Linked DNA regions of Homo sapiens: region 1 is linked to region 2. Evidence: fine-mapped expression QTL. A gene starts in region 2. The other region holds a variant in brackets. All regions are shown on one strand. Distances are from middle to middle.

Region 1 (2,904 bases), 44 kb after region 2:
TGGAAGACCCCATCTCTAAAAATCTTTTAAAAATATTTTTTAAAACTATCCAGGCAGGATGGTGAGGGTCTGTAGTCCTAGCTACTGAGGCAGGAGAATCACTTGAGCCCAGGAATTCAAGGCTGCAGTGGCCAGGATCCCACAGCACTCCAGCCTCGGTGACAGCAAGACCTGGCCTCCCCGGAAAAAAAAAAAAGGAAGGGAGGGGGATTCAGGCCGGCCGGGGTTGTCTGAAATGGGATATCCATGGGGAGAGGGCAGGGATAGCAGAGGCCTCGGCTTCTGGAATGTTGGAGCCACAAGCTGAGCAGGGTGAGGGCGTCCTGGGCCATTCCGGTGTGTCACTCACCTGAGCTCTTGGGAACCTGGCCTTGTGCCCTCCTCGCCCGCAGTGGCTGAGTGTGGGTGTTGTGTGGGGAATGCAGGGGTGTTGTCTGTGCTGAGGGTTTCTTAGGTCAGTGTGGGAGGGATCTGGAGCCGGGGCTGGACTTAGATTTGCTTCCGGAAGGAAGGGGTAGGGTTGGGGGTGGGGGAGCTTCTCTATTACCCTCCTTAGTTTGCCAGCTGGAGACAAGCTTAAAGTGATCTCCAAAGCCACGACTGGGTTTGGTGTGTAGAAAACAGAAGAATGAAAGGGGAAAGGGCCCAATGGTGGGTTTGTTTTTGTGGGTTTTTTTTTTTGAGCTGTCACTGGGCTCCTGACCTGCCCCTGAACTCCAAAAGACAAGCTTTCTCTAATTGACCCAGGCAAGAGAGGGGAGGGATTGGAGGAGAAAGATGGGATAGGCAGGCCCTGGAAAGGTCACCTACCTGCTGGCTCCAGGCCAGTCTTGAAGGTGCCAGGGGTCCTGGCCCAGTGCAACCCACAGGCCTCCAGCAGCCCATGCACTCCAGGCTCTGACCACAAGGCCAGTCTGGAGTGATGCGTGTGGGCAGAGTGAAGGGGCAGGGGTGGAGCAGAGCATGGATCCATAGAACAAGAAAGAACAAGGACACTGCAGTCCCATTGCCCTGGGAGCCAGCCCCAGCTTCATGGCTCCCTGGGGACCTCACAGAACATCGATAGAAGATCCTAGAAGAACCACAGCCCCTGGCAGGTACTTTTCTTTCCATGGGTTTGAAGGAGGCTCCACAGACAGAGGCCAGAGGAGGTTGAGGCTTGGAAGCCACAGGGCCCCGTGGAAGGAGTGCATCCCCCCACCCTCCTCGTTCTTTGTCCTCACTATTTAAAGTCCAGGGTCAAGCTGGGCACGAGACAGGTAAACAACCATCTGAGTAAAGGTGAGTCTCCCAAGCCTTCCCAGGGTTGCGTGAGCTCAGAGGCAAGCGGGGAAAACTGAGGCATGGGA[T/A]TTCCAGGCAGAGGAGAGGCTGCTCCCCTGCTAGGGCCACAGGCCCCTCCTCCCTCCTCTGTGCCCCTGAGGAATCCCCATGACTGGCAGGTCCTCCGGCTACTAGCTCCACCCCTGCCCTCAGCAACCTTCAGGAGGCCCTCTTGACTGAGACTTTGTATTGCACTCTAGTGAAAACCAGCCGGACCAGCAGGGGGTGGCACAGAAAAGAGGCGAGAATGTGAGATTAATAGAGTGCTAGCAAGACAACAGAAAATCCCAGGCAGCAGTTTCACATGACCAGAAGAAGGAAACTTGAAATAGCTGCATGTGCCAAGGGCCAATAAGTCCCTGAAAAATAGGATGAGGACCAAGCTGGCTGCGACCAACCAGAAGCAACATGGCGCTGTATTTGATGTAGGTTTCACCTAGGATCTCACTGTACAATCAGTAACATATGAAACCGTACACCCACCAGTGCCAAGACGGCTCCAGGAACACCTGTATTTGGGTGTAAATTGTGGCACCACGGTCTTGAGAAATCTTTACCTTTTCCTGGAATCTTCATGAATATACCCCTCTTTAGTTGAAGAAGCCCATAAAGGTCAGCCCCACACCTTGTAGGGCATGAGACACTCTCTTGAGGACCCCCACGTTCCTCTTCTTCAGTGAGTCCCTTTACTCTGCAGGAAATCTGCCTACGTTCATGACTTTTGCACTTGTCCTTAAATTGTTTCTGGCTAAGGTGCCAAGAGCCTGGAGAAGGCCTGGCACGGTGGCTCACTCCTGTAATCCCAGCACTTTGGGAGGCCGAGGCAGGCAGACCACCTGAAGTCGGGAGTTTGAGACCAGCCTGACCAACATGGAGAAACCTTGTCTCTACTAAAAATAGAAAATTAGTCAAGCCTGGTGGCACACGCCTGTAATCCCAGCTACTTGGGAGGCTGAGGCAGGAGAATCGCTTGAACCCGGGAGGCGGAGGTTGCGGTGAGCCAAGATCACGCCATTGCACTCCAGCCTGGGCAACAAGAGTGAAACTCGGTCTCAAAAAAACAAAACAAAACAAAAAAAAGCGTGGAAACGGGCTGAGGTCGATGTCCCACCGGTCTTTGATGACCTCCCCTAGGCCACCAGTATCTGGAGGGGATTAGGGACACTGAGCTCCAGCAGGGCTATCCAGTGTGCCTGCAGAAACAAGGTTGGTCACAGGCAGCCCAGGACAGGGAGTGGGGTAGGGAGGCTGGGGCCAAAGCCCACTCACGTCTTCTAATTCCGAGTCTTCCACTATTTCCCCCGTGCTCATCCATCACAGCCAGATCAGGTCACCCAAAGCAGTGACGCCTCACAGCTACCAAGGCATGGGGCCAGAGAGAGAGACAGAGTCAGGCATCACAAGCCCCCTCCAGGCTCAGCCCTGAATACCAAGATCAGGACACGGCTGCCCCGGCCTGGATTGCACAACTGGGCACCCTCTTCCCAAAGCTGGACCAGGCTGGGGCCGGGGGACTGCACTCAGCTAGGGCATTGGCCCTCTAGGGGCAGAAGCTGCCCTGGTTCTTCCGGAAGGAACTCCTCT
Region 2 (2,904 bases):
AACTCAAGACCAGCCTATGCAACATAGCAAGACCCCCATCTCTACCAAAAAAAATTTAAAAATCAGCAGAATGTGCTGGTGTGTGCTTGTAGTCCTAGCTACTCAGGAGCCCTGATGGCACCACTGCACTCCAACCTGGACAACAGAGCGAGACCCTGTCTCAAAGAGAAAAAAAAAGAAACATGTGATGGCCAGGCACTGTGCTAGGTACTAGGAATACACAGGTGAACACAAGATGATCCCAATCTCATAGGACTTGCAAGTTTATCAAATAATCAACAAATAATTACAGACATTTGTAGGTTATGTAAGAAACTTTAAGATACCAGGATGGCTTTCGATAAAATACCATTGAGGCTACATGTCCATTGCACGTCCATATCCTTAGTACTTTCCTGAGAAGATTCCCTAGAAGTGCGATTTCTGGGTCTAAAGATCTGCTTGTTTTTTGTTTGTTTGTTTTTTTGAGATGGAGTTTCCCTCTTGTCACCCAGGCTGGAGTGCAATGGTACAATCTCCAGTCACTACAACCTCCGCCTCCTGAATTCAAGCGATTCTCCAGCCTCAGCCTCCCCAGTACCTGGGATTACAGGCACCCGCCACCACGCCCGGCTGATTTTTGTATTTTTTAGTAGAGACGGGGTTTCACCATGTTGGCCGGGTTGGTTTCAAACTCCTGAACTCAGGTGATCCGCCCGCCTTAGCGTCCCAGTGTTGGGATTACAGGCGTGAGCCACCGCGCCCGGCCTGTTTTTAATTAATTTTTTAACAACAGACTTTTATTTTTTAGGGCATTTTTAGGTTCACAACAAAATTGAGCAGAAAGTACAGTTTTCATATTACCCCTGCGCCCACCCACCTCCAGCAAGCAGCAATCTGTTCGCTTTCAAGTTTTATTTATTTATTTATTTATTGCATTTTGTTTTAAATAGAGTCTGGGGAAATGGGAGAAAACGCTGAAAACGCACAAGCACTTTGGTTGGTTAAATTAGGGTTCCGCCAAGAGCCGGAGCGGTGTGCCAAGTGAAAACTACATTTCCCACGGGGCAGCGGGTCACGTCACAGAGGAACGACTACGCATGCGTGCAAGGTCCTCCGCGCGCGACTACGCTCATAAAAGGAAAAAAAAGCGTGTGCGGTTCTCGACGTGCCGCCAATCTTCGAACGCAGGTCTGTGATCATCCGCAGACTCCGAAAAAGGGTTCGAGGAACGCGCCTGCTCCCCTCGTCGCAGTTTCCAGCCCGACGAGCTTGTTTTGTCCCGGACTCGGTAGGTGGCGACGGGCCGTGGCCTGAGACCTCCGGCGAAACGCGGGAGCGAAGGGCTGAGTCCTCCCTCCGCGCCGCGGCTCCCGACCTCCCTGAGGCGGCGCTCTAGGGGCGGTGCGCACGCGCTCTGGGCGGGAGGGGGGCGGGGCTCGTGGGGGTGGGGGCGGGAGAGGAGGGCGGGGCCGGGGCTCGGGGAGGGCGGGCCCTGCGCCCGGCCGCTCGAGGTCTGCGCTTGCGTGCTTCCATCCCCGGCGAGGGTGGGAAACAGCGACACGCTGGGCTCGGCACGGACGCAGCTTCCAGGTGGGGTACTCGGACCCGGGTCACGAAGATGCGGACAGAGGATGGGCCCCGAACTCCAGCACTTATTTTATGATTTGCACAAAAATTTTGTATATATATATAGTTCTTAACAAGATACACTAACAGCTCGTCGTTTGCCCAGGAGGCTCAACCTCCCGCCTCGGCCTCCCAAAGTGTGGGGAGTATAGGCGTGAGCCCCCGCGCCCGGCCAAAAAATGCCCGTCTTAAGAACAACAAAACAGCCTCCTTCACCCTCGCTATCCTCCAGTTACCTCCTCCTCGGCTCCGGTTTGCAGCCAAAGGCCTTAGTCTACCCTCACTAATGCCTTTTCTCCTCCAAGTCTTGAACCCTTGAGCCTCTAGTCAGGCTTTGGTCTCCACCACTCCACTAAAAAGGCTTCTTGTCAAAGCCACCAGTGATCTCTAGGTGGCCAAATGCATTGTTAAGTTAGGTCTCAGTCCTGTTCAGCATTTGATGCTGTGGATCACTGCCCCTCCTTGAAACACTGTTTTCATTTGGCTTGCTGAACGTTCTCTTCCTTTGCCTCTGCTCTCTCTGGCTTCTCCTCTGCTGATTCTAACCTAGGCATCATCTCACATTTTTGTTTTTATTAGAGACACGTTCTCTGTTGCTCAGACTGGAGAACAGTGGTGTTATTACAGCTCACTGCAGCCTCAAACTCTTGGGCTTAAGCAGTCCTCCTAACCAAAGCCTCCCCAAATGCTGGAATTACAGGCATGAGCCACCGCAATCCCAGTTTCACATTTTAAATGTAAATACTGGCCAGGCGCGGTGGCTCATGCGTGTAATCCTAGCACTTTGGGAGGCCGAGGTGGGCAGACTGCCTGAGCTCAGGGGTTTGAGACCAGCCCGAGCAACGTGGTGAAATCCAGTCTCTTCTAAAAAAAAAAAAAAAAATTAAAAAATTAGCCGGGCGTGGTGGTGCACGCCTGTAATCCCAGCTACTTGGGAGGCTGAGGCACAATAATCACTTAAACCCAGGAGGTGGATGCTGCAGTGAGCCAAGATCGTGCCACTGCACTCTAGCCTGGGTGACAGAGCAAGACCCTGTCTCAAAAAAGAGTTCTAGAGGTGGAAGAAAATCCACATATAAGTGGACCTGCACAATTAAAACCTGCATTGTTTGAGGGTCAACTGTATAGCTATTTTAAAAGAGATTTATTGTGATGGATTGGGTGACACTATTATAGAGGCTGAGAAGTCCCGAGATTTGCCATCTGCAAGCTGGAAGCCCAGGAAAGCAAACCCTCAGGAAACTCACAGACACACTCTAAAGTGTTTCACCAGCTATCTGGGAATCCCCTAGCCCA

Evidence for each region. PIP is the estimated chance that this variant, and not a neighbour inherited with it, causes the effect. A credible set is the group of variants that fine-mapping cannot tell apart.
Region 1: its variant is the best candidate, but not a certain one, in a credible set for the expression of SGF29 in skeletal muscle (GTEx, PIP 0.54).

Annotation. Positions count from the first base shown.
Region 1 is chr16:28,596,648-28,599,551 of GRCh38, forward strand. SULT1A2 (sulfotransferase family 1A member 2) reads right to left here and starts at 403. Exons shown (of 8, transcript NM_001054.4): 1 at 350-403. RefSeq lists enhancers at 341-635, 2,269-2,803, 2,804-2,904. The variant T/A (reference allele first, on the strand shown) is at 1,350.
Region 2 is chr16:28,552,828-28,555,731 of GRCh38, forward strand. SGF29 (SAGA complex associated factor 29) reads left to right here and starts at 1,093. Exons shown (of 10, transcript NM_138414.3): 1 at 1,093-1,270. RefSeq lists an enhancer at 1,062-1,381 and a silencer at 1,402-1,521.